Linked DNA regions of Homo sapiens. The protein of the gene in region 5 purifies or fractionates together with the protein of the main gene of each other region. This does not show direct contact. Each region holds a gene or a part of one and is shown on either strand. Other genes may lie near its edges.

What was found.
Region 1: the proteins of CCDC14 (region 5) and TTLL5 purify together in Homo sapiens (affinity purification with mass spectrometry; one large-scale study listed by BioGRID and IntAct). This does not show direct contact.
Region 2: the proteins of CCDC14 (region 5) and CCDC61 purify together in Homo sapiens (affinity purification with mass spectrometry; one large-scale study listed by BioGRID and IntAct). This does not show direct contact.
Region 3: the proteins of CCDC14 (region 5) and WDR90 purify together in Homo sapiens (affinity purification with mass spectrometry; one large-scale study listed by BioGRID and IntAct). This does not show direct contact.
Region 4: the proteins of CCDC14 (region 5) and TBC1D31 purify together in Homo sapiens (affinity purification with mass spectrometry, with the first as the bait; one large-scale study listed by BioGRID). This does not show direct contact.
Region 6: the proteins of CCDC14 (region 5) and CCDC18 purify together in Homo sapiens (affinity purification with mass spectrometry; one large-scale study listed by BioGRID and IntAct). This does not show direct contact.
Region 7: the proteins of CCDC14 (region 5) and OFD1 purify together in Homo sapiens (affinity purification with mass spectrometry; one large-scale study listed by BioGRID and IntAct). This does not show direct contact.

The regions. Positions count from the first base shown.
Region 1 is NC_000014.9:75,667,525-75,671,647, reverse strand, and holds part of TTLL5 (tubulin polyglutamylase TTLL5), read right to left. Parts: intron 2,233-4,123; coding exon 2,126-2,232; intron 1-2,125. UniProt on the Homo sapiens protein: Polyglutamylase which modifies tubulin, generating polyglutamate side chains on the gamma-carboxyl group of specific glutamate residues within the C-terminal tail of tubulin.
Region 2 is NC_000019.10:46,008,486-46,012,608, reverse strand, and holds part of CCDC61 (centrosomal protein CCDC61), read right to left. Parts: intron 1-4,123. UniProt on the Homo sapiens protein: Microtubule-binding centrosomal protein required for centriole cohesion, independently of the centrosome-associated protein/CEP250 and rootletin/CROCC linker.
Region 3 is NC_000016.10:647,633-652,500, forward strand, and holds the start of WDR90 (WD repeat-containing protein 90), read left to right. Parts: upstream 1-1,732; 5' UTR 1,733-1,784; coding exon 1,785-1,794; intron 1,795-2,130; coding exon 2,131-2,222; intron 2,223-2,358; coding exon 2,359-2,535; intron 2,536-2,621; coding exon 2,622-2,730; intron 2,731-2,906; coding exon 2,907-3,077; intron 3,078-3,362; coding exon 3,363-3,471; intron 3,472-3,566; coding exon 3,567-3,634; intron 3,635-4,011; coding exon 4,012-4,115; intron 4,116-4,191; coding exon of another isoform or gene 4,192-4,194; coding exon 4,195-4,407; intron 4,408-4,834; coding exon 4,835-4,868. Other genes in the region: MCRIP2 (MAPK regulated corepressor interacting protein 2), read left to right, coding at 151-252, 488-558. UniProt on the Homo sapiens protein: Microtubule-binding protein that plays a crucial role in ensuring inner core protein localization within the centriole core, as well as in maintaining the microtubule wall integrity and the overall centriole roundness and stability.
Region 4 is NC_000008.11:123,070,743-123,075,625, reverse strand, and holds the start of TBC1D31 (TBC1 domain family member 31), read right to left. Parts: upstream 2,920-4,883; 5' UTR 2,857-2,919; coding exon 2,780-2,856; intron 2,378-2,779; exon of another isoform or gene 2,242-2,377; coding exon of another isoform or gene 2,195-2,241; intron 1-2,194. UniProt on the Homo sapiens protein: Molecular adapter which is involved in cilium biogenesis. Part of a functional complex including OFD1 a centriolar protein involved in cilium assembly.
Region 5 is NC_000003.12:123,933,496-123,937,618, reverse strand, and holds part of CCDC14 (coiled-coil domain-containing protein 14), read left to right. Parts: intron 1-3,863; coding exon 3,864-3,946; intron 3,947-4,123. UniProt on the Homo sapiens protein: Negatively regulates centriole duplication. Negatively regulates CEP63 and CDK2 centrosomal localization.
Region 6 is NC_000001.11:93,215,010-93,219,132, reverse strand, and holds part of CCDC18 (coiled-coil domain-containing protein 18), read right to left. Parts: intron 2,498-4,123; coding exon 2,387-2,497; intron 1,396-2,386; coding exon 1,264-1,395; intron 631-1,263; coding exon of another isoform or gene 604-630; exon of another isoform or gene 481-603; intron 1-480.
Region 7 is NC_000023.11:13,740,750-13,744,872, reverse strand, and holds part of OFD1 (centriole and centriolar satellite protein OFD1), read right to left. Parts: intron 459-4,123; coding exon 354-458; intron 1-353. UniProt on the Homo sapiens protein: Component of the centrioles controlling mother and daughter centrioles length. Recruits to the centriole IFT88 and centriole distal appendage-specific proteins including CEP164. Involved in the biogenesis of the cilium, a centriole-associated function.

The DNA.
Region 1 (4,123 bases), on a different chromosome or scaffold from region 5:
TAACATCAAAAAGAATAAAATATTTAGGAATAAATTTAACCAAGGGGGTACAAGACTTGTACACAGAAAACTATAAAACCATGATGAAAGAAATTAAAGAAGCCCAAAAAATTGGAAAGACATTCCATGTTCATAGAAAACATCATTAAGATGGCAACACTCTAAGAAGTGATTTATAGATTCAATGCACTCCCTATCAACATCCCAACAGCCATTTTTGAAGAAAGGGGAAAAGCTGATCCTAACATTCATATGGAATTGCAAGGGACCCTGAATGGCCAGAGATCTTGAAAAAGAACTATATTAGAGGACTTACAATCCGCAATTTCAAAACTTAATACAAAGGTACGGTAATCAAGAGTATGTTACTACCATAAGGATAAATGTATAGTTCAATGAAATATTAAAAGTCCATAAGTAAACCCATACACCTATGGTCTACTGATTTTCAACAATAGTGCCAAGACCATCCAGTGGGGAAAAGAATAGTCTCTTCAACTAATTTTGCTGAGACAACTGGATATCCAAATGCAAAAGAATGAAGGTGAACCCTTACATAACCCTACATGAAAAATTTAACTCAAAATGGATCAAAGACTATTGAGCCCTAAATATAAGAGCTTAAACCATAAAACTCTTAGAAAAAAGCACAGGGATCATGACCTTGGGTTAGGCAATGGTTTCTTAGATATGACACAAAGAATATAAGCAACAAAAGAAAAATTAGATAAACTGGATGTCATCAAAACAAAAAACTTTTGCTCATGAAAGAACACTAACAAGAAAATGAAAGACAATTCACAGAGTAAGAATATTTGTAAATCATATATCTTGTCTAATATCCATAACATATAAAACTCTTATAATTCAACAACAATAAAGAAAACCCAATTTTTAAAATGTACAAAGGACTTGAATAGGCCTTTCTCCAAAGAAAATACACAAATGGCCAAAAAGTACATAAAAAGATATTCAAATTACTCATTAGGGAAATGCAAATCAAAACCACAGCCAGATACCACATCACATTCACTGGTATGGCTATGATCTAAGAAACAGAAAATATCAAATGTTAGTGAGGATGTGGAGAAACTGGAACCCCTATACGTTGTTGACGGGAATGTAAAACGGTACAGCTGCTATGGAAAACAGTTTGACACGGAATAAGTTAAACACAGAATTACCATATGGCCTAGCAATTCCATTCCTAGGTATACCCCAAAGAACTGAAGATTAAGTGTCCAAACGACTTTTCCGTGAACATTCATAGCAGCACAATTCACAACAGACAAAAGGTGGAAAAAGGCCAGACACAGTGGATTATGCATGTAACCAAGGCAGGATTGCTTAAGGCCAGGAGTTTGAGACCAACATAGGCAACACAGTGAGATCCTGTATCTAAAAAATAAATAAATTTTAAAAACAAAATTAAAAAAAAAGGTGGAAACAAAAAAAATGTACATCAACTGATGACTGGATAAACAAAATGTGGTGTATCATTGGAATGCATTCATTAGCATATACAATGGAATGTTATTCAGCTATAAAAAGGAATAAAGGACTGATATATACTCCAACATGGATGAACCTCAAAAACATTATGCTAAGTGAAAAGAAGCCTGCCAAAAAAGGTCACATATCACATGACTCCATTTATATAAAACATCCAGAATATGGGAATCTATAAAAACAGAAAATAGATGAGTGGTTGCCAGGGACTGGTGGTATGGGGGCTGGGGATATCTGCTTAATGGGTATTGGCTGTACTTTGGAGATGATGAAAATGTTCTGGAACTAAACAGTGGTGACGGCTGCACAACATTGTGAATGTACTAAACAACAACGACTTGTACACTCTAAAATGGTTAAAATGGTAAATTTTGTTAGGTGTATTTTACCACAATTAAAAAAAAAACACATGTACACAATATTCTTGAAAAAAAATCAGAGGAAAAACATAAGCAGAAAACAATTTAAGAAATTATAATGTTTGAAGTATAACAACTCAATTGATTTTTCTCATGGCCAAGGCCCTTTCCCTATATATATGTCATATCAACTTCTTTAAGACAAGGACGTCTGGGCCATGCCCAGCTCCGTCCTCTGTGGGAGAGGTTATACGCACCTCCAATTACTCTAATATTGTTGTCCTTTGTAAGAATAGCGTCGGCATGGAATACCAAAACTGGAATTCTCCTGCAGCCTCCAGTCCACATGATGCATGGATGATCCCTATAACGACAAAAAAGCCTTCATTAATTTACAGCTCAAAACCTGAACTAACTGCTGATGCAGATTACTATGGTTTGTTGCTTAGCAAGTTTCCCCTTCCTTCTGGAATACAAATCCCAAATATCCTGTGGGAAATCACATCTCCCATTCTTAGCTGTGTGTTTAAAATTAACTCTATCCCTGGTTCAGGGATGGGCCTTGATTGGTTTCAGCCAATCAAGATACTTCATCATCCAGTATAATTAGTGGTTCAGAGATAGGCACATAAACCAATTGGAGCCCATAAGTTTAAGGAGACATGTTCTGGACTCTGTGAGAAAGCAATGGTTTCTTTCTCTTCTATAATGGCTACAGATGATAGCCTGTCTTCCTCTTGATGGTATAGGATGAGAATGAGAAGTCTGGAAGGGCAACAACCATTTTGTGACCTTGAAAGAAGAGCCTGTAGCTGTTGGTGAAGGAGAAAGTCAGCAGGAGGTTGACTGAAGAGATAAAGTGGGATTTTCAGAATCAAGATATGCCTGAATATGAGTGAAAGTATTCTCTTTATTACTTAGGACCATTTGGATTATGTTGTAATCCTTTGCACACATAAAGAATCCTAACTGATGAGTTCACAATAATTTACATACTCCTTTTACACGCTATAGTCCATTTTCAAGCCAATTTGATGATGCATCCTAAGACTCTGAACTAGGAACTCTAAATTAATACAAGTATCCCAATTAAAATCACATATTTTAAAGGAAGCCCATGCTAAATGGAACAATATATATTTTCCTCCAGTATAAAACCACAGGGGAGAAAAAGACCTCTGACTTTATTCTCTTTCCCTATCCTCAGGAAATCTCAGCTTAATTTTAGGCTGATGAATATTTACTCACAGATCAGAAAAACCTTCACCCTCATTAGGGCAGGGAGGTAGGAAGAGAAATAAAATTAAATGAACTGAGTCCCTACTATGTGCCAGGATTTAAACTAAGAGCTCTCATATCTCACTTAATCCCCCTGCCCATACTATGAACTGCAGGAAAACTGTCTCAGAAAGGTTAAGTAACCTGCCTAAGGTCATATAGCTGGTTAAGTAAGGGATGAGGTATTTGAACCTAACATCTGTATTCTTTCTACTGTTTGCCTCCCTAATCGCATTTCAGCAAAGTTGTATATATTGGATACCTTGAATTCAATTATTTGGGAACTTAAACTGATAATTCCTTAAATGCAATACAATCCACTTGGCCAAGATTCACTCGACTCTTAAAAACTCACATAACCACATCCCTTAACAAAGGTCATACCACAAATCTCAGGGCCAAGTCAGCCCCTCCCAATCCAACTTTAAAAAGATCCACACTCGGGCCGGACACGGTGGCTCACGCCTGTAATCCCAGCACTTTGGGAGGCCGAGGCAGACAGATCACGAGGTCAAGAGATCGAGACCATCCTGGCCAACATGGTGAAACCCCGTCTCTACTAAAAATACAAAAATTAGCTGGGTGTGGTGGCCCGCACCTGTAGTCCCAGCTACTCGGGAGGCTGAGGCAGAAGAATCAGTTGAACCTGGGAGGCGGAGGTTGCAGTGAACCAAGATCGTGCCACTACACTCCAGCCTGGCAACAGAGCAAGACTCCGTCTCAATAAAAAAAAAAAAAAAAAAAAAAAAACATAAAAAGATCCACACTCTGAATGCACAGTCTGTAAGGCTCCCAATCTTAGGAGTGAGGCAGTCTTTAGACTTGGGACAAGCTGCCAACTGCTTTCTAGTGAAGAAAGCAAAGAACAGCATACCTAGTTTATTCCCCGTTTTCTAGAAATGGCATGTGGATGCTTATTGTTCTTGTTCTTTGACTTGGTGACAGTACCCACTTGTGAGAAACGGTGCTGATAGGGT
Region 2 (4,123 bases), on a different chromosome or scaffold from region 5:
GTGGCGTGATCTCGGCTCACTGCAACCTCTGCCTCCTGGGTTCAAGTGATTCTCCTGTCTCAGCCTCCCGAGTAGCTGGGGCTACAGGCATGCGCCACCCTGCCCAGCTAAATTTTTGTATTTTTAGTAGAGACAGGGTTTCATCATGTTGGCCAGGCTGGTCTTGAACTCCTGACCTCAGGTGTTCCACCCGCCTCGGCCTCCCAAAGTGCTGGGATTATAGGCGTGAGCCACTGAGCCCAGCCTCAATTTTTTAACCTGGGTAGTTGTTACATGTACGCTGGCTTTATGATAATTTGTGAAACCGTACATTTATATTTTATACTCTTTGGAGTATATTATTTTTCACAACAAGAAAGTTAAGTAGTGGAAGCAGTGGGACTCTTGGGCAGGAGGGACGGGTCCCATCCCAGAGATTCAGGTGTAAGTGGTGTGTCTGGAGGAGTCAGGGCCTGCCCTGGAACTCCTCACTGCTCACAAAATTTTTAAAAAAAGAAAAATAGGCCAGGCACGGTGGCTTACACCTGTAATTCCAACACTCTGGGAGTCTGAGACAGGTGGATCACTTGAGACAGGTCGAGAGTTCGAGATCAGCCTGGCCAACACGGTGAAACCCCGTCTCTACTAAAAATGCAAAAATCAGCCGGGTGTGGTGGCACACACCTGTAATCCCAGCTGCTCAGGAGGCTGAGGCAGGAGAATCGCTTGAACCCAGGAGGCAGAGGTTGCAGTGAGCAGAGATCACGCCATTGCACTCCAGCCTGGGTGACAGTGCGAGACTCGGTCTCAAAAAAAGAAAAAGAAATGGTGAATGTACAGGGCAGCCAGGGCACTGAGATTTTTCAAAGCTCCCGGGCAATTTGAGTGCATATCCAGAGTGAACCACTGCATTGGTTGAAAGGCCGAAGAGAACTTTATAAAAGAGGGAGCCAGCTCTCAACAGCTGAAATCATCAGTCTCAACACCACCAAAGGAGGCATCTTGCCAAAACCTACCCCACATGTGATTAAACCTATATAGGGTTAGCCACCACTTCACTGCAAGTACAGGGGACAGAGAAGGACATTAAACACACCATGGCGATATAATCAGCAAAATCTATTTTTCATTTTTCCATCTGAGTATGCTTGCTAGGGAAAAATTCAGCAAAATCTAGACTGCAAAACTCTACAGGACAAATAACCTGATTTCTTCCACAAATAAGTAGCATGAAAAGTGGAGAGGGGGATATAAATTAAAAGAGATTTAAGAAATACATCAGCCAAGCTCAGTGGCTCGTGCCTGTAATCTCAGCACTTTGGGGGGCCAAGGCAGGTGGATGGCTTGAATTCAGAAGTTCAAGATCAGCCTGGGCAACACAGGCAAACCCTGTCTCTATAAAAAAATATGAAAATTAGCTGGGCATGATGGCATGTGCCTGTAGTCCCAGCTACTCAGGAAGCTGAGGTGGGAGAATCGCTTGAGCCCAGGAGGTAAGGACACAGCGAGCCAAGATCGTACCACCACACTCCAGCCTGGGCAACAGAGCAAGACTGAAAAAAAAAAAAAGAAAGAAAGAAAAGAAAAGAAAGACCTCGACAAACTGCAATGTGCAGCCGTATTTAGATACAGGACGAATTCAAACCACTTGCAAAAAAGACATTTGAGAGGTGATCAGAGAAGTGTAAGTGTGAACGCATACGCAGTGGGTTTCAGATGACATCCTGGAATTTTTGTGAATTTTGTTGGATGTGATGGCAGCACTTATATCCTTATGTGTTAAAGATACACACTGATGCTTTTACAGAGGAGACACGAAGACTGGGATTTGCTACAGGGCAGGGGGTGGCAGTACATCAAACAAGATGGGCAAACGTGGGTAACTGTTGAAGCTGGGGGACAAGTACGTGCAAATTATACTACTGTTTACTTTTGTGGTGCTGGAATTTTTCCTAATAAATCCTTCTTAAAATCCGTGGTTCCCCACACTCTCTAACAAGGAGCTTTCCTTTCTATTCAGCCCCTGCCCATCTGACTTCTCCCCTCCTCTCCTCCTGCCTCCCTCTCCCACAGGCTCCAGCCAGATGCAGTTCTCACCTCCCAGAACCTTCTCTCCCTCTTCTCCTGGCAAGAACGACTCCACTCATCCGGGAAGCCTACCTGCCCCTGACGTTCTCCGCTCTCCCAGCCCTCTATACCTTTCCTTCCTAGCACCAGCCCTGGCAGACCTGGCATGTAGAGGAGTGTCCGTTTCCCATGTGGATCCCACCTTTCTGGGGGCAGAGCCTCCACCTGTCTGGTTCACTGCACAGGACCCCAGGCTGCGTGGCCGGGCGCCCTGCATTCAACTCTATTCCACTTGTTAACAAGCTGGGTGGCCCTGGGCAGTTTCACTTCACATCTCTGAGCCTCAGGCCATCTTTTCTCATCTGTGAAGAGGGACGATAATAAGAATGCCCGCCTGTTAGGCTGTAAGAATCTATCCACAGTGCTTAGACCATGTCTAGCATAATAAACATTAACTAGCGTCAGGCAGTGTGCCTGGCACAGTATGAACTCCATAAATGTTGGCTCAATGAATGAATAAATCTCAGAACCTTCCCAAACTCCCTAATTCCTGGCTGGGAAGAGGAAGATAAGAAGCCACTGAGCAGCGGTGGGATCTCAAGGCTCCTGTGGTTGGTTCCAAAGGGTGGAGGGCGCCCCCTTGTGGCCATCTTGGGAAACACACACCCAGAAACACAAACCTAGAAACACACACACACAGCCTGAGACAGAGCAAACGCGCGCGCACACACACACACACACACACATACACACACACACAGCCTGAGAGCAGATCCTGAGGATAAATTTTGGCCTCCCCACTGCGGCCTTCCTCGGCCCAGCCGTACACAGGCGAGCTCCTCCAAAGACCGGCGGGGTTCCCCAGCCCCATGAGCTCCCATAAGGACTGGTCCTCCGGGTCAGCACTTAGCGCTCTGTCCTGGGCTTGCAGCCACCAACAGTGCAAACAGCTGGGGAAACAACAGAGGCTCGGCGCTGGCTGCCTGGATCTAAGGTCCAGCCTAGCCATATTACCCACTGTGTGACCTGCGCCAAGTTCCCTAACTTCTCTGGGCCTCTGTCAAACGGTGATAATAGCAGTGCCTACCTTGTAGGGTGGCTGTGAGGATAAAATGAATTTAATCATAAAGCACAGAGCAGCCCTGGCATACAGTTAAATGTTCAATAAACATTAGTTACTGGTAACATTATTACTAAAAATATTATTAGTCCTCCCCAACGAGCCAGGCCTCTTCCCGGTAGCGATCAAGCCCCAGATTCGTCTCCCCAACAGAACCAAGCACAAGGCAGGCATGAATATATATGCCAAAGGCCTTTGCTTCTTTCACTTCATTCATTCCCTTGTTCTCACCGCATTCCCACCTAACACAAGGACTTTGCCCAGGCTGTTCCCTCTGCCTACAACACTTCCCCAGCCCCTGGGCCTGACCCACCCTACACCCCAGTGGAGTCCTGTGACAGCCTCCCACAGCACAGGCTCCCTTTCCTGCCCTACTCATCTCCATCTGTAATGATATACTCAAGTGGTTATATACTTAGCACCCATCTCCCCCAGGGCTGGGCACTACGTGAGTGGCAGGGAGGGGCTAGCACAAAAGGTGCACCCCATGAAGGTGGATTCGCCTACATAGAGCTCGACCTCCCCCCAACCTTTGCACATGCTGCTCCCTTTGCCAAGAACACCCCTCCCGTACCAGGCAGGGTCAGGTACCCCACCCAGAGCCTTCACTGTCTGCAAACACATCTGCCTCCCTCCCTGGACTCAGAGTCCCAGGAGGGCAGTGCCAAGATAGTCTTGGTCACCACTATGTCCCCAGCACCACCCAGCACAAAGGTACAGAAGAGGGGCTCAGAGGCCGGGCGCAGTGGCTCATGCCTGTAATCCCAGCACTTTGGGAGGCCAACGCGGGCAGATCACTTGAGGCCAGGAGTTTGAGATCAGCCTGGCCAACATGGCAAAACCCCTTCTCTACTAAAAATACAAAAATTAGCCGGACATGGTGGCGCGTGCCTGTAATCCCAGCTACTTGGGAGGCTGAGACAGGAGAATCGCTTGAACCCGGGAGAAGGAAGCTGC
Region 3 (4,868 bases), on a different chromosome or scaffold from region 5:
CCGCTGCATGGCTGTGCTTTTCCTTGGCACTCTGCCCTTGTGTCCTGTGACCAGCCCTGTGTGGGGCTGGAGTCCAGGGTGACCATCAGGCCCTGGGTGGGCGATGGGGTGCCTGGGACCTGGCTCAGCCCGACTGCCCTCCTCCCACAGCCTGGCAGCAGGTGCAACAGCAGCTGGATGGTGGCCCAGCCGGTGAGGGCGGGCCAAGGCCTGTGCAGTACGTGGAGAGGACCCCCAATCCCCGGCTGCAGAGTGAGCCCCCCAACCCTGTCCCCCCAGGAGAGACCCCCCAGCCCCTCTGATCCTGACCCAGGCCCTGCCAGGTTCCCACCCCAGGGGATGAGGGAGGGGACTCTTGTGCAGAAACCCCTTCTTCCCAGCGCCTGCCGCACTCGGAGTCCGGGTGAGCGGCTTGTGGTTAGCTCCAGGGGAGACTTGCCGGCTGGCCTGGGAGGCAGCATCACTGCCCAGCCTTCTCTGCCCACAGACTTTGTGCCCATTGACCTAGACGAGTGGTGGGCGCAGCAGTTCCTGGCGAGAATCACCAGCTGTTCCTAGTGGCTGCTGGGAGGGGGCGCTGCTACACGGCCGACCTGTCGCCAGGAGAGAAGCATGGCGCCCTGCCCACCCACTGCGCCTGGCTGGGTGCCGGCCACACCTGAAGTGCCAGCATTTGGACTTTTGCACCTTTTTTTCCCTTGGCCCGGCTGTCCCAACCAAGCTGCCATGGCCAAGGGCCGAACCCGTCTGACCTCAGCCCTGCTCACTGTGCCCAGGGACCAGCGACCAGCCCCTGGGGCTGGCAGGGAGGAGCTCCAGGCTAATAAAGTGGAGAAACTGTCTTTTTGGAGTGTCTTTGACTTGGGAGGGTGTAGGGGGGGTTCTCATGTCCAGTTCCAGTCCACAGCCTGGGACGCCAGGCCCAGCACAAACTCCCCTTGTAGCCCTGTTCCTTCAAGCCGTTAGCTTCTCACCCAGCTGCCCTGCGACAGGTAGGAGGGACGTTAGCCAGCCCACCTTGCTTGGAAGTCTGGGGACCCCACTTGGTTCCTCTTTCCTCTCCCGTTGGCGTTGACTGGGACCGAAGCCGAGACTCAAGGCCTAAAGACATTAAATGGCCCCGGAGTGCAGTCCACCACCCCCCACTACCGGCACTGGGGCTGTGTCTCAGAACGCCAGGTCCCATTCTGAATCCGCCGGGCCCGGCCGCAGGACACTGGGCGAAGGAGTACGTGGGGAACCTGATAGGACGAACGTGGGAACCAGCCCCTCCGCGGGCGCCCGCACTACCTTCCCTGATGGACGGGGATGACCCAGCCCACCTGAGTCAGGACCCAGGGTACCCAGGTGTGGAGCAGGGGCCTCTGGACGGCGAGAGAGCGGCAGGGTGAGGCCCGGCCGTCCGTGGCATGGCCAGGCCTCAGCGCGACCTCGCCTCGCTGCTTGCATGCGGCGGGAGCCCCGGCCGGCCGAGGCGCTGACAGGTGGGCGCGGCGGAGGATCCGCAACCGGCGCGGGCTTCGAAGCCGGTCGGGCTAACAGGGGGCTGCCTTGGGAGGCCCGCGGGGCAAAGGGCAGCGGGATTCGCGGCTGGAGCAACCCTGGAGGCCGCTGACGTGAGCGGGGTACTCCCACCGGGGAGGTCACGTGGCCAGGGCGCCGCCATGACGGCGGAAGTAATGGCGGAAGTGGCACCGTTGCCAGGCAGCCGTTGCCTGGCGTCGCGGGGCGTACTCTGCGCTGGGCGCGCGGAGGCCTAGGCGGGAAGCTCGAGCGGCGGCGCCATGGCCCGAGGTAGCGCGCGGCTGGCGGGGGTCCCGAGGATCCCGGGTTCCGGGGTTCCGGGGTCCAGGGTCGGCGGCCGGAGCGCTCAGGGCCCCCGCCTAGGCCCTGAGGCCAGAGTCCCCGCTCAGGCAGGGTCCCGTCTGCCGGGCGCCCACCCTCGGGCTCCCGGAGCTTGGCTTCCCTCGGGCGCCCGGCCTCGTCCCGCCAGCCTAGCTGGCGTTGGCGTCGCCGGGGAAGGCGCGGAGAGCCCCGGCTCCTGCCTGGTCCCCGAGGCCCGGCCCAGCCCCGCAGTGGCCCCGGCTCGCGTGGCCGAGTCCCCTGACGCCCGGCGCCCGCTCCCCGCAGCGTGGCAGCACCCGTTCCTCAACGTCTTCAGACACTTCCGGGTGGACGAGTGGAAGCGCTCCGCCAAGCAGGGGGACGTGGCCGTGGTCACGGTAGGCGGCCGGGGGCTCGCCCGGAGCCCACACCCCTGCCCTGCCCCCAGGAGAGCTGCCCCGCCCCCGAGGGCCCCCTCGCCCCCGCTGCACTTCTTCTGGGTGCTGTCGGTGATGCGGGCTCCCGCTTCTCCAGGACAAGACCCTGAAGGGCGCCGTGTATCGCATTCGGGGCTCAGTCTCTGCCGCCAACTACATCCAGCTCCCTAAGAGCAGCACCCAGTCTCTGGGGCTGACGGGACGATACCTGTATGTGCTCTTTCGGCCCCTGCCCAGCAAGCACTTCGTCATCCACCTCGATGTGTCCTCCAAGGTACGGAGCCCGCGGCTGGGGGCTGCGTGGGAGCCCCGGCACCCCTGCGGCCCCTGTCTCCTCACGGCCCTGCTCCGTCCCCACAGGACAACCAAGTCATCCGTGTGTCTTTCTCCAACCTCTTCAAGGAGTTTAAGTCTACGGCCACGTGGCTCCAGTTTCCCTTGGTCCTGGAGGCCAGGACACCTCAGAGAGGTGACACCAAGATGGGGTGTGGATGATCCAGGACAGGTGGCTGGAGGGAGTTGGTGCAGGCCCAGTGAGGCTCCTCTGCGGCCTGGAGGACAACCTGGCGGGGGCACAAGCTCACAGTTCTGGGAGTCGCGGGCTGTCAGGAGGGTGGGCGCTGACCCTGAGTGCCCATCCTGCAGATCTGGTGGGTTTGGCCCCCTCCGGAGCCCGCTGGACCTGCCTGCAGCTCGATCTGCAGGACGTTCTCCTGGTCTACCTGAACCGGTGCTACGGCCATCTCAAGAGCATCAGGCTGTGCGCCAGCCTGCTGGTCAGGAACCTGTACACCAGTGACCTGTGCTTTGAGCCTGGTGAGGGCCGCACCTGCACTCCCCACTCCATATCTCACCCATGCTCTCAGCCCTGGAGAGGCCCAAGTCCAGGGTGCTTGGGAAAATACAGTGCTCGAGCTGTGCTGTCTCTGAGCTCTGGCCAGAACCCATCCCAGAGGCAGCCCTGGGGTCAGAACCCATCCCAGAGGCAGCCCTGGGGTGGGGCGGTGGCTGGGCTGGTGGCGTGGCAGTGCCTTGGCGGGTGCCCTGTGTTCAGGTGGCTAAACAGCCTCCCTTGACCTGGAACAACCCTGCTCCTTGTAGCCATCTCTGGGGCCCAGTGGGCAAAGCTGCCCGTGACTCCTATGCCTCGGGAAATGGCATTCCCTGTGCCCAAGGGAGAGAGCTGGCATGACCGCTACATCCACGTCCGGTGAGTGGTTCTGCTTCTTTCGAGGGAGGCCTCGGTGGTGGGAGGGTGGGTGGCCCTTGGGCCCCCAGACACTGACTCTCCCTCTGCCTGCCAAGGTTTCCAAGTGAGAGCTTGAAAGTGCCTTCCAAGCCGATTGAGAAGAGCTGTTCCCCTCCTGAGGCAGGTGGGTCTGGGGGGTCAGCGGGGACCCAGGTTAAGGCCTGTAGGGTGCGTGGGGCTCGGTAGGAGAGGGCAGGGCTGGGAAAGGACCCAGTGGTGTGCTGGCTGCAGCTGGTGCAGGGACCCAGGGAAGCCCGTAGGTTGTCCGAGTTCCCAGAACCACGAGGGTGGGAAGTCTGTGTGAGGGGTACCCGGGGGCCCCAAGCTTTCTAGCTGGAAGAGGAGACTTTCAGGGCCTAGGGTGGAAGTGGGGATACTGGCTGTGGGTCCTGCAGAGCCGGTGAGGCTGGGCCACTTGCTGCTGCCCTCCCCAGGCGTCACCCTCACCAGGCATCTGCACAGCTGGCCCCTGGGTCACTGGGGTTCTTTGCTCTGTTCTAGTCCTCCTGGGGCCGGGGCCACAGCCTCTCCCTTGCCCGGTGGCCTCCAGCAAACCTGTGCGGTTCAGTGTGTCTCCAGTGGTCCAGACGCCCAGCCCCACAGCCGTGAGTACCCCCTTCGCCCTATGAGATGGGGTTGGGGTGTGATGGCCCAGGACGCTGATGGGCACTTGTCCCCCAGCAGTCCGGCCGGGCCGCCTTGGCACCCAGGCCCTTCCCGGAGGTCAGCCTGTCCCAAGAGCGCTCAGACGCCTCCAACGCGGATGGCCCCGGTTTCCATAGCCTTGAGCCCTGGGCCCAGCTGGAGGCCTCTGACATCCACACGGCTGCTGCCGGCACCCACGTGTTGACTCACGAGTCGGCTGAGGTGCCCGTGGCCCGCACCGGCTCCTGCGAAGTGAGTGCCCATCCCACAGCAGGCGGGGCCTGGTGAGGTGTGGGCTGGGGCAGCTGGTAGCCCGCCCCGAGATGCATTCAGAACGGATGTGCCTCCAACGGTCTCCTCTTGTTCAGCCTCCTGGCAAGGAGCAGAGCTGGCGGGAGGCGGCTTTGGGGAAGAATCTCTGTCCACAAAGAGTAAGGCAGGGCTTCTGCTCACCCCCAATGCGTCAGCCCCAGGTGGTCTGTGGGGGACCCTCGAAGGTCTGGCAGTGCAACTGGAGTCCCAGCTTCCACCTTACCACAGCCAGCAGGAGCCACCCAGGACCAGGGCAGTCTTCTTGAGAGGCAGGACCCAGCTAGGGGTTGGCGGGGCTCGGAGTTGGTCGGGCATTCTGGGGACCTGGCTGAGCCTCCCAGGACTTTGATGCGAATGGCTGTTTCAGGGCTTCCTCCCAGACCCAGTCCTGAGGCTCAAGG
Region 4 (4,883 bases), on a different chromosome or scaffold from region 5:
GTTCAAGTGATTCTCCTGCCTCAGCCTCCTGAGTAGCTGGGATTACAGGTGCACGCTACCATGCCCAGCTAATTTTTTGTATTTTTAGTAGAGACAAGGTTTCACCATGTTGGCCAGGCTGGTCTCAAACTTTTGACCTCGTGATCCTCCCACCTTGGCCTCCCAAAGTGCTGGAATTACAGGCGTGAGCCACTGCACCTTGCCTAGTTTTTGGATTTTATATTAGAAACATCTATCTTCATTATAATTTCATTAAAGTATACTAAATTGAATTAAGTGGATTAAACATTTTCTCCATGTGTATCTAAACATAAGGCTTTTTAGACTCACTAAAGGAAATAGCAAAATTCTTAACAATGCTTATTTTTATCTAGTCCCCAAGGAATTAAAAACACAAAAATAAACATACAGAAATGACAAGCAATATCAAAATGTTTCATGGCAACTAAACTCAGAGCAAACAACTTTTTCCTCCAGTCTTATTTTCTAGAACACTTATTACATGTTCTGGCTACAAAATTACACAATCATTGTTCAAAATATGAAAAATATAGAAATACACTAAGAAACAAATACTCAATTATAATCCTACCATGTAGATGTAATCACAATAGTGACATTCTGCCCCTCCGATTTTTCATATAAATCACACGTAAAAAATTTATTTTAGAGCAACTTCCTTTCAGATTCTCACAGATTGCCTGACAGAGTTCCTCAGTTCTCAAACACAAGAAGAATATCAAATATTTACTGAGCACCAAATGTGTAAGACAACCTGTCTGGTAAATCTGATTCTCCCCACTGACAGCCTTAGTGATTAACTTCCCCAAGGTCACAGAGTTGGTAAACGGACATTTACTTCAACAAAATACATCTGACTCCAAGTCAGTGCTCTCTGCCCGTCTAAACAGCATGAACAATGGGTTTTAACGAACACAAAGATAAGCTATGCTTTAGTGGAAGAAGCAAACAAGACATTTGGATAATCAACCCATTTCTTTCACTTTTTGAATCTTGCACATATATCTAGATATTTTGTATCATCAAGAAAGAGAAGGCGAGTGGGCTATAACTTTTAGAATGTTTAGAGAATACCAGAGGTGGGAGTGGTATTCACACAAACTCAGAATTTGAAAATGAAAAACTTGAGGAATCCCCACTTTAGAGAAAATTTTTTATTCAATGTAGTTGAGGCAGCGGCATTGATAAAGAGGCCTGACAGTAACCAGGAACCAAACAAGCTGCTGGTAAAACGTCTCGCATCGCACTTTGGATATACAGAGTAGGCACTTAAAACTGATTTGTCGGCCAGGCGCGGTGGCTTACGCCTGTAATCCCAGTACTTCGGGAGGCCAAGGTGGGTGGATCACGACATCAGGAGATCAAGACCATCCTGGCTAACACGGTCCGTCTCTACTAAAAATACAAAAAATTAGCCGGGAGTGGTGCGCCTGTAATCCCAGCTACTCAGGAGGCTGCGGCAGGAGAATCGCTTGAACCCGGGAGGCGGAGGTTGCAGTGAGCCGAGATCGCGCCACTGCATCCGACCCTGGGCAACAGAGCAAGACTCTGTCTCAAGAGAAAAAAAAAATTCTGATTTGTCAAGAAGCAACCAAAGGATCAATAGAAAAATCACTAGAGGCCGGGCGCGGTGGCTCAGGCCTGTAATCCCTGCACGTTGGGAGACTGAGACAGGCGGATCACCTGAGGCCAGGAGTTCAAGACCAGCCTGGCCAACATGGTGAAACCCCGTCTCTACTAAAAATACAAAAATTAGCCGGGCGTAGTGGCGCGCGCCAGTAATCCCAGCTACTTAGGAGGCTGAGGCAAGAGAATCGCTTTAACTCGGGAGGTGGAGGATGCAGTGAGCCGAGGTCGCGCCACTGCACCCCAGCCCAGGCGACAGAGCAAGACTCCGTCTCAAAGAAAAGAAAAATCACTGCTAGAACAAGAAACACACTGAAACAGGAACTCAAGCAATTTCCGTGAAATCCTAGGGAATTAGGAGCAATAAGATCACTCTGCGTGCAGAAATCGAAATCCAAATGGCACCGCTTTGTAGCAAAGGCTTCCAGGGAAACAAGACAGGCTGAGCCTCAAACAGGACAGGTAACTGGGAACAGAATGAAAAGCAGCGCTGGCCGTACTAGAAGCCCCCCAGCAATGCATAATGAACGCCCCAGCCCCTACATACACGCCGATATGTAAACTCCAGAGAACCGGAAGTGTGTTTTGTTCCATCGCCGTCCCCAGCGCTTAGAGGCGTGCTTGGCACACAGTAGGAGCTCAACAAATAGTTGATGAATGCTTGTGCGTCTAAACACATCCAAGGATTTAAGGATGGATAAACTGCAGCCTTTGGAAGAGGCAGAATTGTCCTGCTCTTCCACCCCGCATCTCCTCCTGGAGTTCTGCTCCAGCTGCAACTGTTAAATACTCACTGAGCACCTACTACGTGCCAGGGACACTAGCGGGATACCGTGATCATAAAAGCAGGAGAGTCCCGGTACACAGCAAAAGCCGCAAGTTCCCAGGTCTGAGAACCACCGGCCTCCTCCTGCTCCGCGCTGTCCCGGACCAGACCCCCGCTCCCAGAACTCAGAAGGGGATCTCTGCGGACCCTGGCGTCCGGAGCCATCTGTTCCACCGCAGGTCATCCAACCCAGGGATGCGGGGCAAGGTCAGAGCCAGAACCCGGAACGCTGCCTGACGCCCGGCGTCCCCTCCTCGCCGGTCTCCATCCCCTCCACAGCCCGCGCCCTCCCGCCACGGCCTTTACCCGTCCCGCGTGGCCGGGGACGGCTTGCGGTGCCATATCTTGCCGCTCTCCTTGTTGCCTAGGTCAGTGCTCTGCATGGCGAAGCTTGCCCACGACCGCCGGCGGCCCGCTGGGTAACCGTCCCAGCGCCTTCCCGGCAGGCCCAGCGCTCCCGGCCCGGGAAATTTGAGCTCCGGCCGCGGCGGCCTAGGTCCAGCACCAGCAGGCCGTACCAACCCCCTTTCTAATAACAACCAATTGGAAGGCTGATCCCTCCCAAAATCCGCCCAAGCGGCCACTCCCTCTCTGGACAATGTAATCGACCAAAGACCTTCTCTTAGAGTCCACCTCTTTCTGAGCTCAGTCTTCCCGCCCCCGGACCCAAAGCCTTCTGGGAATCGTAGTTTTTTGCAGGTGGATCATAGACGCGAGGAATTGGCTTGGGAATTCCGCCCTTTGGGAGCCTCGTGGGGTTTTAGGCTCCCATCAGAGGCAATAAAACTCATTTTCTCCTGTGGTCCCTGCATTCCGTTCTAAATTGCTTTTAGGGATTAAGGAATTGTATAGAAATAACTAAGAGAAGCAAGGAAACAAGTGCAGAGAAGCAAGGAGACAAATACATTGAGAACTGATGGGTTCCTTTCATAGAACGTTCGGGCTCAAATGAAACTTACAGATGAAATAGTTCATTCTTCCTGACCTTTTCACCATCCTCATGGTTTTGTTTCGTTTCTTCAGTTTCGTAATCTGACAGGCCTTCCAGCATTATGATGTCCAGTCCACCAATCATGGTCCAGAAAAGCAATAATATCAACAACTGGCTGCCTCGACTTTAGCGTTCCTTTGATAAAAATTCACTTAGTGCCTCCGGAGCGCTTACTAGGTATGGGGCACTTTTCTACTATACCGAATATATCAACTCAATTAATCCTCGTAGCAAATTTACAAGTTAGGTAGTACTAATTATCTCCATTTTTAGTGCTCTATGAGGTTGTGCATTAATTTCCTGAGGCTGCCCTCACAAATTACCACAAACTTGGTGACATAAAAAAACAGAAATGTATTCTTGGGAAGTTCTTGAGGCCATACATCGGAAATCAAAGTGTCTGCAGCCTCCTTTCAGGCTCTAAGCAAGATTCCCTTACTTGTCTATTCCAGTTTCTGGGAGTTGCTGGCGTTCTCTGCTTGTGATCGCATCGCTCCATTCTCCGCTTCCATCTTCACACGTCTTTCTCCTCCTGGATGTATCTTTTCCTCTTCTGTCTGTTTCAAATCTCCCTCTGTTTTTCTCTTATAAGGAAACTTGTCATTGGGTCCATATGAATAATACAGGAATACAGGATGATCTTTTCATCTCAAAATCCTTAACTTGATTACATCTGCAAAGACCCTTTTTCCAAGTAAGGTAACAGTCACGGATTTTGGGATTAGTATGTTGACATATATTTTGGGGGGCCACCAATCAACCTGTTACAGGTAAGTACTAATATTATCCACTTTTGCAGACAAGGAAACCTTAAATCTTTCCATTCCTAGTCTCTATGTTGTTCTACAACAGAAAAATGATGTTAAAAAAATTATATGGTCGTGGTATTTGAAAAGTTCAAACTCTTGATCAGAAAAGCAAATTCTCAAAAAAAATACTAATGCAGGTTTTTAAACTTTATGTTGTTATCAAGGGGTGGCTCTGAGAGATCAGACAACTTGTAATGACCTATTGCAGAGGAAGCAACTGCAGCTCTTATTTTTATTTATTGGTTTTGAGATGGAGATAAACTACATGTATCAATGTTTGCATTATTATTTAGGAAACTTAGAATCTTAAATTTAAGATACAGTGCCTAACCTGAAACAGATTATTTCACAACATTTCTATCCCACACCATTAACCAAACAACCTTTTTTTATCGGAAGCAAAGATGAATCTGCTGAATGATTTTCTTAACTTCTCTAGCTTAACCTGTCTGCAGCTAAGCTAGTTTGGGCTGTCTCAGCCCATGTGGCCATCCTATTCAATCTCAGATATGTGATAAAGAGGTTTATATGTTAGATCTTCTGGACTCCCACTTTGTACTTATCTTTTGATTTAGGGGGCACAATTTGAAGGTCAGGCTGAAGAGATGTG
Region 5 (4,123 bases):
AGCAACCAACAGACTGAGAGAAAATATTTGTAAAACATGTACCCGATAAAGGACTTGTATTAGAATGTATAAAGAACTTAAGACAGTATAAATTTTTAAATATCAAGTTGAAAAATGGGCAAAATATTTGAACAGACACTTCACCAAATAAGTGGATATCAAATATGAATATCAAATAAGAATATAGAAAGATGCTTATCAGTAATGATTAGGAAAGTGAAAATTAAAACCATGACAAAATACCACTGCATACCCATTAGAATGGCTAAAATTCAAAATTAATAAATGTTGGGATGTGAAGGATTTCACAATTAACTGATGGGAATGTAAAATAATTTGAACACTTTGGAAAAAAAGTTTGGCAGTTTCTTAGAAATTAAACATATATCTAACATATGATCCAGCCAGTCCACTCCTAGATATTTAAGAGAAGCCAAAGCATGTGTCCACACAGAAACTTGTTGATGAGTGTTCATAGGAAACAACCCAAATGTCTATCAATAGGTGAATGGATAAACAAATAGTGCTATATCCATACAGTAGAATACTACTCAACAATAAAAGGGTAAGAACTATTGATACATGCAACAGCATGGATGAATCCCAAAATTACTATGTTGAGTGAAGCCAGGCTAAAAGAGTATATATTCCATAATTCCATTTATATAAAATTCTAGAATATGCAAACTATAAATAAGTGCTTATCTGGGAGGAGAGAGTTATGAAAAGGGCTATGAGGAAACTTTAGGGGTGATGAATATGTTTTTTGAAAAATTTTTAGCTTTGAGGGTACACGTGAAGGTTTGTTACATAGGTAAACACGTGTCACAGGAGGTTTGTTATACATGTTATTACATCACCCAGGTATTAAGCCCAGTACACAATAGTTATCTTTTCTGCTTTTCTCCCTCCTACCACCTTCCCCTCCCTCCTACCATCCAGACCCCAGTGTCTGTTGTTTCCTTCTTTGTGTTAATAAGTTCTTATCATTTAGCTCCCACTTATAAGTGAGAATGTGGTATTTGCTTTTGTTTCTGCGTTAGTTTACTAAGGATGATAGCCTCCAGTTCCCTTCATGTTCTTGCAAAAAAACATGATCTCATTCTTTTTTATGGCTGCTGATGGATATCTTAATTGTGATGGTGGTTTTACTACATCATATGGCAGAAAATAAAATGACACACTTTAAATTTATGTAGTTTATAGTATGTCAGTTTTATCTCAAGCTGTCTAAAAAAAAAAGAATGACTTGAATAAAAGAAATATTTGCCTAAGTAGCAGCAGTTCTTTTCCTTTTTTAAAATCCAGTATATTTAAATTTCGTACATATCTTAAAATAGCATGTGTAACATCAATTTTTAAAATATCCTTTTTTCTGTTTTTATCATGTATCATTTTAAATAGAATATTTTTTTAAAAGCCTAGCCCTGAAAGCAGGGAATGAGAGGAATGAAAGTAGCTACTTGTACAGTTAGGTTGGAGGGAATTTTTTTAAAATATGGGAAGAGTTTTAATATGTTTCTTGGCTTAGGCACATGAACTGGCAAAGAGGGAGAAACTGCAGATACAGAAGATAAAGGGAGTGGGATAGGAGCAGAGTCCTTGATGGTCTAGGAGGAGAATGGGATCCAGGGCACAGATAAGGCTACTCATCAGACTAGATGGAAAAAATGAGGGCTAATACACATATGGATACACCCTGGGACCAAAGGATGACTGTGTTTGTCCCCAAACCACATTATTTTTAGTGAAAAAAGGAAAGTATACAATTGAGAAGAGGAGGGTAGGAATGAGAGGCTTGCAGTGAATTATTAGAAGTTTAGATTGGTTACGTTTGGGAAGAGAAGAATCTGACCAGGGACATACAAAAGGATTATCGAGGAAAGCTTCTGTTGTAAAGGGGAAACCTTTAAAGAAAATCAGAATTTTATTAAAACAAAAATAAGCTCACATTATACTGTTGTTCTGCAGCTTGCTGCTTTCACTTCATAATGTGTCTCAGAGATCTTTTCACGTCAGTACAAGTGGACCTCTCGCTTTTTTTATTATCTGTGTATTAGTATTTCATATATGGATGTACCATAATTTATGTAGCATTTTAAGTTGTTTCCAACTTGGCACTATTAAATAATTGCTGTTGTGAACATCCTTGTATGTATCTACAAGGTGGGAGATGCTTTTGCACATGTAAAACTGTTTCTGATGCTTGATAACCTAGAAGTAGAATAATTTTGTCAGAGATTATGAACATTTTACATTTTGTTGGACATTTCAAACTGCCATCCAGAATGGTTATACTGATATAATCACATGAATTGAGTTAATTCATTTCCTGTACTATCATCAGAAAATGTTATTTCTTTTTATTTTTGTCAATTCTATGGCCAAAAAGTACCTTCTTTTAAATTTGCAATTCTTCATGTTAGTGAAGATGAGCATTTTTATCATATGCTTATAGGCCATTTCTATTTCTTAGGTGAACTGCTCATTCTTATCCTTTGTCACTTTTTACTAGGTTGCCTTCCTTACTGATTTGTAGGAGTTCTTTAAATGTTATGGACCCCTTGTCTATAACATATGTGCAGGTATTTTCTTTCAGGCTTTTAATTCTACAGGTTTCAAATTTTGCTATGGTTAAATCTTTCGTTCTTTTCCTTGATGCTTGCTGGATATTGAGTTTCACTTAGAAATGCCTTCCCGACTTCAAGATTATGTAGATTTCCCCCTAAAACTTGTATAGTTGGGTTTTGTTTACATATTTTATCACTTTAATCAACTCGAAATTAATATATGTGAGTGATGTGAGGTAGGGTACTATCATTTTAGAGTTAGTACCAAAAATAAATATTTTAAGGCAAAATATTTTTAGGTAAGTAATTCTGGAAAGATAATAGAGGTAACTTTTGTCCCCATAAGCGATAACTTCTTAGAAGTAAAGAAAACACTTGCATATGTTTCTATTTGTGAAGCAGATACATATTGTGAAGTTCATTGTAACAGGGCAGATTTGTAGCCTGTTAATATTCTCGTTACTTAAGACCATTAACTTTTCCATCTAATAAAATTATTAGAAGCATAGATTTGTGTTTCAGCATATGACAAACATCAGGCAGATAGATGTCTGATAGCAGTCAGTGCTTGTAGGTATTCTAGTTGATAGTAATGACAAATCTTTTAAAAAGTAGATGATTAACTACAGTGATGAAGATACACAGAAAGACGATGAGAAACAGCATGAGCAGATAGAAAAGGAAAGAAATAGAAAAAAAACAACAAATCACTGAAGAGACAAAAAAGAGAAATTAACACTTTCCTCATGAGGGTTTTTTTTTTTTTTTTTTTTTTTTTGAGGCAGAGTCTCACTCTTTCGCCAGGCTGGAATGCAGTGGTGCGATCTCACTCACTGCAACCTCCACCTCCCAGGTTCAAGCAATTCTCCTGCCTCAGCCTCCCAAGTAGCTGGGATTACAGGCACGCGCCACTACGCCCAGCTAATTTTTGTATTTTTAGTAGAGATGGGGTTTCGCCATGTTGGCCAGGCTAGTCTCAAACTCCTGACCTCAGGTGATCCGCCCACCTCGACCTCCCAAAGTGCTGGGATTACAGGCGTGAGCCACCGCGCCTGGCCCATGAGGGGAGGTTTTATGTTGTTTCAGGCAACCTTAAAAATTATCTCAGGCCTCATAATAATAGTAGTATGGTTTTGTTTTTGTTTTGTTTATTTAGTTTTTGTCTTTTGGGGATGAGATGGACTTCTGCTGTCTTAGTGGGTTTATGTTTTATCTTTTTTGATAGGCTATCACATGTATACTATTAAATTGGCTTGGTATGCTTGCATTCATAGTTCTTCATTATTTCTTTAGGCAGTTGAGAATTTTGAACCAGCAACTCAGAGAACAACAGAAAACTCAAAAACCATCTGGTGCTGTGGATTGCAACCTTGAATGTAGGTAAAAGAACTTTAAGGATTGATAAATTATTTGTGGCTCCGGAAATGTTGATAAAGAATTGAGCTTTTGTAATTACTTTGAGGGGATAAATTTAAAATATTGTAGAAACATAAGAAAATAAAAGATGCTGTCACTTCCCAATAATATACACCTTTTTTTGTTTGTTTGTTTTG
Region 6 (4,123 bases), on a different chromosome or scaffold from region 5:
CCAACTGACTGCAATGTGTTGCACCAGAAAATATTGAGTATATATTAAGACTTCAGCAAAGATCCCCTGAAACAAGTGACACCAAGTCATTTACTGCAAATAAGGGATGATTACACAGATTCAATAATAGGGTTAGACTGAAAAATATTAAAATTATTGGAGAAGCTGTGTCTGCTGATGAAGCAGCTGCTGTCACATTTCCAGCAGAGATGAAGAAGCTAAGGAGAAAAGATACCATCCAAAGCAAGACTTCAATTGCAGCGAAACTAGGCTGTTCTCAAAGATGACTCACAGAACCTACATTCATAAAAGTGCAAAGGAGGCTGGGCGCAGTGGCTCACACCTCTGCGTGAGCCAGGCACATTGGGAGGCTGAGCCAGGCAGATCACGAGGTCAGGAGTTTGACATCAGCCTGACCAACATGGTGAAACCCCATCTCTACTAAAAATACAAAAATTAGCCAGGCTTGGTGGCGCGCACCTGTAATCCCAGCTACTCAGGAGGCTGAGGCAGGAGAATCACTTGAACCCAGAAGGCGGAGACTGCAGTGAGCTGAGATCACACCATTGCACTCCAGCCTGGCCGACAGAGCGAGACTCTATCTCAAAAAAAAAAAGTGCAAAGGAGGCACTAGGGCATAAGAGAGAGAACACACTTTTATGAGAACAAGTTTTCACATAACTTTTATGACAGTATTTTGTTACAATTGGTCGATTTTATTAGAATTCTTGCTAATCTCTTACTGTGTCTAATTTATAAATTAAGCTTTATAATAGGTATGTATGTATAGGAAAAAATATATAAGGTTCAGTACTATCTGTGGTTTCAGGCATTCACTGAAGGTCTTGGAATGTCTCTCCCATGGATAAGCAGGGACTACTGTATCTATTTTTTTTTACTGTGTCTTGCATTTTTGGTCTCAAATTTTCTTTTCTACTTTTAACCCAAGGTCAAGAGTGCTTCTCTTATTCTGCTTTTTCCTCTCAATCAATCTTCAAGCAACTGATATTTTTAGGGAAATGGAGTCTACAGAATTACTCTTACTTTAATAATGTCAAAAATAATGATTACAGCTGAAACAGAAGGCATACTATATTCTGTTAAAGCACTGAAAAATTATTCAGAAAGATTGGGATTCTAATTACAGCTCTTGCCACTAACTTTTGTGTATCTTTGTGTCCTCGTCTACAAAATAAAAAATGCTGGGGCTAGTAATGTTTAAGTTTCTTTTCAGCACTCATATTCTAAATATGTATTACTTACTCTTTCAATCTGCTTTTCCATTTCTTTATGCTGTTCCAAGTGAATTTTCTTTGCTTTTTCAAAGGCTAAACAAATTTTCTCATGCTCTGTATTAATATTGGTTTCTAGACTCCTTATCTTTTCATTCTTTTCCTAGAAACACAAAACACTTTAAAGGAGTATAATTGATTTGGGAGGCCAAGGCAGGCAGATCGCTTGAATCCAGGAGTTCAAGACTAGCCTGGGAAACACGGCAAGACCCCGTCTCTATGAAAAATACAAAAAATTAGCTAAGTAGATGTGGTGGCATGCGCCTGTGGTCATAGCTTCTGGGGACGCTCAGGGGGAAGCCTGGGAGGACACGGCTGTAGTGAGCCATGATTGTGCCACTGCACTGCAGCCTGAACCACAGAGTGAGACTTTGTCTCAAAAAAAAAGTATAATTGAAAAGCAGTTTTACATAAAAGTACATTAGTCAACCATTAAATATGTCATACTCCATTCTTTAAAGAACCACAGTAGTTTATACTTCAAACTTTAACAAAATGGCTAAAAATACTTTATCAAGACGAGAAGATTTAAACTATTTTAAATATCAAGAAGCATATCAAAGAACTACCATTATCTTCAATCCTATTAGGATAAAAATGAGAAAACGGCCGGGTGCGGTGGCTCACGCCTGTAATCCCAACACTTTGGAAGGCTGAGGCGGGTGGATCACGAGGTCAGGAGATGAGACCATCCTGGCTAACACGGTGAAACCTGTCTCTACTGAAAATACAAAAAAAATTAGCCAGGCGTGGTGGCGGGCGCCTGTAGTCCCAGCTACTCGGGAGGCTGAGGCAGGAGAATGGCGTGAACCCAGGAGGCAGAGCTTGCAGTGAGCCGAGATCACACCACTGCACTCCAGCCTGGGCGACGGAGTGAGACTCTGTCTCAAAAAAAAAAAAAAAAAGAGAAAACTTGGATAACTTGCCATATAAGCCTATTAACTTAAAAATATAAACAAGAAATGATCAGAAGAGTTTAGTAGAATTTATACTTTCCTATATATTTTATAATAATGATGCTAAAACAAATGTGCTGTCACAAATTAAGTGCCTAAAAATCACAGTAAATTTGTAGGAACAAAGATAAGTTTTACCATAAGCTCCTGTTCTAGTTCTGCATTTTTTGCAGCAATAGAGGAATAAGCAACTATCTTTTCTTCCAGCTGTTTCTCAAGAGTTAAAAGTTGAGAACATTTCTTTGTCATCTGAAAACACATTGAAATAAATGTAAAATTATTTTTTAAAGGTAATGATTTTGCATTCTAAGATCAAACACCTGCTCCTCTTTCAAAGTTCAAATACATTGTGTCTAGGTAAATTGGGCAAACTTACAGTTATAAACATTTAGGATGCAAAGTGAATAACTTTTTAACCCACATAATTATAAGTATTTTACAAAATAAGTGACAATTAAGAAGAAAAACAAATACTGAAAACAAAGGATCACTTCTTCTATCTATGTAAAACATAAGTCATTTAATTCAGACCCCTATATCCAAAAAGGACAATACCCTAATCTATTTTTACGTAGCTGTTAAAGACTGAAATAAGTACAATAAAATGTTATCAGCAGTTATTTCTGGTGGTAGAATTATCAATGGTTCATTTTCTTCTTTTTCCCCTTTTATATTAACAAGACTGTGCTATTTTTGTAATTTAAAAAACTTATTAATCCCAGTATTTGGCAATTTCCTAAGTAAACTGGTAGCCATAGTTATAAACTGTCTAAATCTCCATCTTCATTATTAACATAAGTTCCTATCTTATAGTTCTTTTTCCTCAGCCTTGGCTATAGACTTTAAGCTGAGAAAGCAGGTATTTAAAAAGTGTACCTATAGATGACTGCAGCCTCTGGTTTGAAGATCGAGTATAAGATATACACATGTGGTCCTGGTCCACAATTACCTAATGAGGCACCCTTATCCTGTCCTCAGTGAAAATGAAGACAAGATATTCACAAAACACTCATTATCCCCTTTTCAGAATGTAATTCCTTGCGTAGTTGTTTCAGGTTTACATGCAGTTGTTTAAAAATACAGACTCTTTAAACAGCAGAAATACACAAAAAATAAAAATACAGATTCCGGCTAGGTGTGGTGGCTCACACCAGTAATCCCAGCATTTTGGGATACTGAGGTGGGGATCACCTGAAACCAGGAGTTCGAGGCAAGCCTGGGCAACACAGCGACTGTCTCTACAAATAAAAAATAAAAAAACTTAGCTGGACATAGTGACACATGCCTGCAGTCTCAAATACTTGGAAGACTGAGGCAGGAGAATGGCTTGAGCCTAGAAGTTCAAAGCTACAGTGAGCTATGATCACACCACCACACTCCAGACTGGGCAACAGAGCAAGACCCTGTCTCTAAGAAAAAAAAAAAAAAAGAAAAAGAAAAGAAAAAAGCAGACTCTTGTGCCCATATATACTGAATCAGAAATTGCTGGAACAGGACCCAGAAATATGCATATTAAACAGGCTTCCTAGGTGGTTTGGGGTTTGCTAAAATTTGAAATCCTTTATTATCACTCCTTTTCTTCCAACAGCATAATCCAAAGTCTTTATTTATAAATGTATATTAACCATATTAACTTATACTATGGAAGAAATAATAGGCTGCAATGCAATATTATTTCCACCAAATTTGAGACTTTTACCCACTACAGTTTTTCCTACTTTTAATAACTTTAACTTTTAATAAGTTAAAATACAAAGGTTTCCAAATATAATTTTAAAACAATTTATAACTTATGTGGTACCATTTTTTAAAAACTTTAAATCTGGATGTAAACATATAATTTTTATAAAACCCTAAAATAATACCTTTTGTTCT
Region 7 (4,123 bases), on a different chromosome or scaffold from region 5:
TTTGCAAAGCAAGTAGTTTATAATCTTCTAACTGGGTGGCTGTAAAGTTAGACAAGACACGAGGAAGAACCTCCCAGTTAAGAGAAGTCAAACTCAACAAACAAGGAAGAATATGGGCCTTTGAATCCCTGCATGATTTGGCCAGTGTAGCCCTGGCATTCATGAGGCTAGGGAATGACACTGGAGAGCACTTCCTGGTCCCCCAAGATGATTCCAGAAATGAATTCCCTTGTTGCCTGCCGGCTGCATCCCTCCAGTTCAAGGAGCAATCACACAATATGGTAAATCAGATAATTTCCTTCATTCAAAATGAAAACAGCAGAACTGAAATTAAGAAAGAAGGCTATAATTACCCAGAGAATCTCTGTTAAATGTCGAACTTGTCTGAGTTTCCATATTACAACTCTCTTTAGCTTGATGATATTCTGCCAATTCTTTTAAAAAATGCATAAGAAAACCTAAAAAACATATGCATACAGTTTTGTTTCAGAACTTTCAACCACTGCTCAGTCACTGTTTTTACAATCTTAGTTTTAGGACATTATCATTTTTTACATTATATATCTTTCCTTTTTTTTAGAGACAAAAGTCTTGCTCTGTCACCCAGGCTGGAGTGCAGTGGTGTAATCATGGCTCACTGCGGCCTCGACCTCCTGGGCTCAAGCAATCCTCCTACATCAGTCTCCCAAGTAGCTGGGACTAGAGGTGCACACCACCACCCACCACGCCCAGCTAATTTTACTTTTTGTATAAACAGGGTCTTGCTATGTTGCCCAGGCTAGTCTCAAACTCATGGCCTCAAGCAATCCTCCTGCCTGGGCCTCCCAAAGTGCTGGGATCACAAGCATGAGCCACTGTGCCCAGTCATATCTTTTAATAAATCTGAGAAAAGGCCTTCCCAAGCATGATACAGAACCTGGAAGGAATAAGGAGAAATATTTATCAATCTAACTACATAAAAACTGAAAACTTACATATGGCATAAAATAAAAAAATAACACACTGGGAAAAATAGTTGCAATAATATGGAGGCATAACCAAGACTAAAGTGATGACATTTTCATAACATCAAAGAACTCTTACAAATCAGTTTAAAAAAAAAAAATCAGAAAAATGGGGAAAAACATGGGTAGTTTGCAGAAAAAACTACATTGTCAAAGATGAACACAATTTTTAGATGCTGAATAAACATGAACAAAATCATAAATGCAAATTAATACAACAGAGAAACCATTATTTTCCCTATAACACTGCTAAGATTAAAACTTGTATAATGCTAAGTGTTGGCAAGGGAGTGGATATATAGCTATACTCATTCACTTGGAAGAGAAATTTGTCAGTGCTTATATATATTCGAAATGCATGTGCCCTTTAATCTAGTCATTCCACTTCTATGAATTTACACAGGTATACTTTCACAAGGGCACAAAGGGTGCACACTGCACATAGGTTACCTGTAATGGCAAAAAGCAAACAATAAAACAACCAGATCTCCATCAATAGGGGGTTAAATACATTATTTAAAAATAATTAGTCTATACTGCTACAGAAAGATACATTGGTGGATTAAAAAAAGCAAATTGCATACAGTATCTACGATATAATCCCAATTGATTGTGTTTTAATTACAAATACATAGTTTTAACCTCAAACAATTCTAGAAGATAAACAAGAAACTGTTAATTCTAGTTATCAGTGGAGTGAAACTGTTAATTCTAGTTATCAGTGGAGCGTGAGATTAGAGAACATGGGCAGAAACTGCTACTTTGCTTTCACTTTATATCCTTCTGAATAGTTTGAAACTGTTTTAAACCACAAGCATAAATTACTTAAGAAATGTTTAGTTTCTTGGAACTAAAAACAGTAGTTAGCTCAGCACCTTTTCCCCCACCCCCACTCCCTTCAGGAAGGGGATTAGATTTTGTCACAGTCTGCATACCATCCTGGGATCACCTGACCTAAATTTGCAAACATTAAGGTTCACTCTTGATGACGTAAAGCTCTATGGGTTTCGACACTGGGTCTTTCATTCTCTTAACAGCGTCTTTTGGCAGGGTACAGTGGCTCACGCTTGTCATCCCAGCACTCTGGGAGGCTGAGGCAGGCGATCACCTGAGGTCAGGGGATCGAGACCAGCCTGATCAACATGGTGAACCCCATCTCTATTGAAAACACAAAAAAATTAGCCAGGCGTGGTGGCAGGCGCCTGTAGTTCCAGCTACTCAGGAGGCTGAGACAGGAGAATCACTTGAACCCAGGAGGCAGAGGCTGCAGTGAGCCGAGGTCACGCCACTGCACTCCAGCCTGGGTGGCAGAGTGAAACTCCGTCTCAAAAACAAAACAAAAAGAACAGTGTCTTTCACAGAGATGTTTTTAATTTTAATAAAGTCTAACTGATCTACTTTTTTCTTTCATGTATCTTGCTCTTGGTGTTACATCTCATCACGAAACCCAAGATCACAGACTTTCTACTGTTCTCATCTGGAAGTTTTATAGTTTTGCATTTTACATTTAGGTCTATGGTTCATTTTGAGTTAGTTTTTGTGTAAGGTATAATAAATAAGATCTGTGTCTAGGTTCATTTTTGCGCATATGAATATCCAACTGTTACAGCACCACTTGTTGAAAAGACTATCTTTCCTCTATTGAATTGCCTTTGCACCTTTGTTAAAAAAAAAATCAATTGACTATATTTGTGTGGATGTATTTCTGGACTTCCTAATTCTGTCCCCATTGATGTATATGTCTTATTCTTTTGCCAATTGCAGATAAGAATTTTTACTTCCAAAAAGCAAAGGGCCGATGTCCAAATTTTCTTCCCTCATCCAAATTTTGTGCACATCATTTTCTGGATATTGTCAGGCCTCTGAGCCGAAGCTCAGCCATTGTAACCCCCGTAACCTGCATATATACGTCCAGATGGCCTGCAGGAGCCAGCTAAAAAACCACAGAAGTGAAACAGCTCCTGCCTTAACTGACTGACCAACCTTACGACATTCCACCATTATGACTTGTTCTGCCCTGCCCCAACTGATCAATCGACCTTGTGACATTCTTCTTCTGGACAATGAGTCCCAAGATCTCTCCACCATGCACCTTGGGACCCCCTCCCCTGCTAACAATAAATAACCACCTTTAACTGTAACTTTCCACTGCCTACTCAAGCCCTATAAAGCTGCCCCTCTCCTATCTCCCTTCACTGACTCTCTTTTCGGACTCAACCCACTTGCACCCAAGTGAATAAACAGCCTTGTTCCTCACACAAAGCCTGTTTGGTGGTCTCTTCACACAGACACGCATAACAGATATCATTATCTCTGAAAGGAAAATTAGCAGTGGGAAGAATGGGTGACTAGAATCTAGGAGGAAAAGTACCAAGGCCATTCAACAGCTTAGCACCCCCTGAGCATAGATATGGTAGGATAAGACCATAGGTCTGAGTCAGGGGACAGACAACGGTTAAGTACACAATATCTTCCTACATGTTTTCTGTTACTTAATTAGAAGACACCAATTTTTAAAAAAATTTTATCTTACCAGGAGCTATTTTGTTAGCTAAGAGTTCTATCCAAATTTTGGCACTAGGATGCCTGACCTATCTGCTACTCATAGTTTTTCTGGCTTCCAGAAATTTTACTGGGATGCTAGGTGAAGCTGGTAAGGGCTGTCGGCCAGATGTCTTTCTGAACCAGATGCATTTAAAGAGACTGTGTAAAAACTATTTTTTTTTTTTTGAGACGGAGTCTTGCTCTGTCGCTAGGCTGGAGCGCAGTGGCGTGATCTTGGCTCACTGTAACCTCTGCCTCCTGGGTTCAAGCGATTCCCCTGCCTCAGCCTCCCAAATAGCTGGGACTACAGGTGCACGCCACCAGGCCTGGCTAACTTTTTTTTGTATTTTAGTAGAGACGGGGTTTCACCATGTTGGCCAGGATGGTCTTGCTCTCCCGACCTCGTGATCCGCCCGCCTCAGCCTCCCAAAGTGCTGGGATTACAGGCGTGAGCCACTGCGCCCGGCCATGGAAAAACTACTTTTAAGGATAATGTATCTATAGTAACTACATAGATTTTTTTTTTTTTTTTGAGATGGAGTCCAGCTCTGTCACCCAGGCTGGAGTGCAGTGGC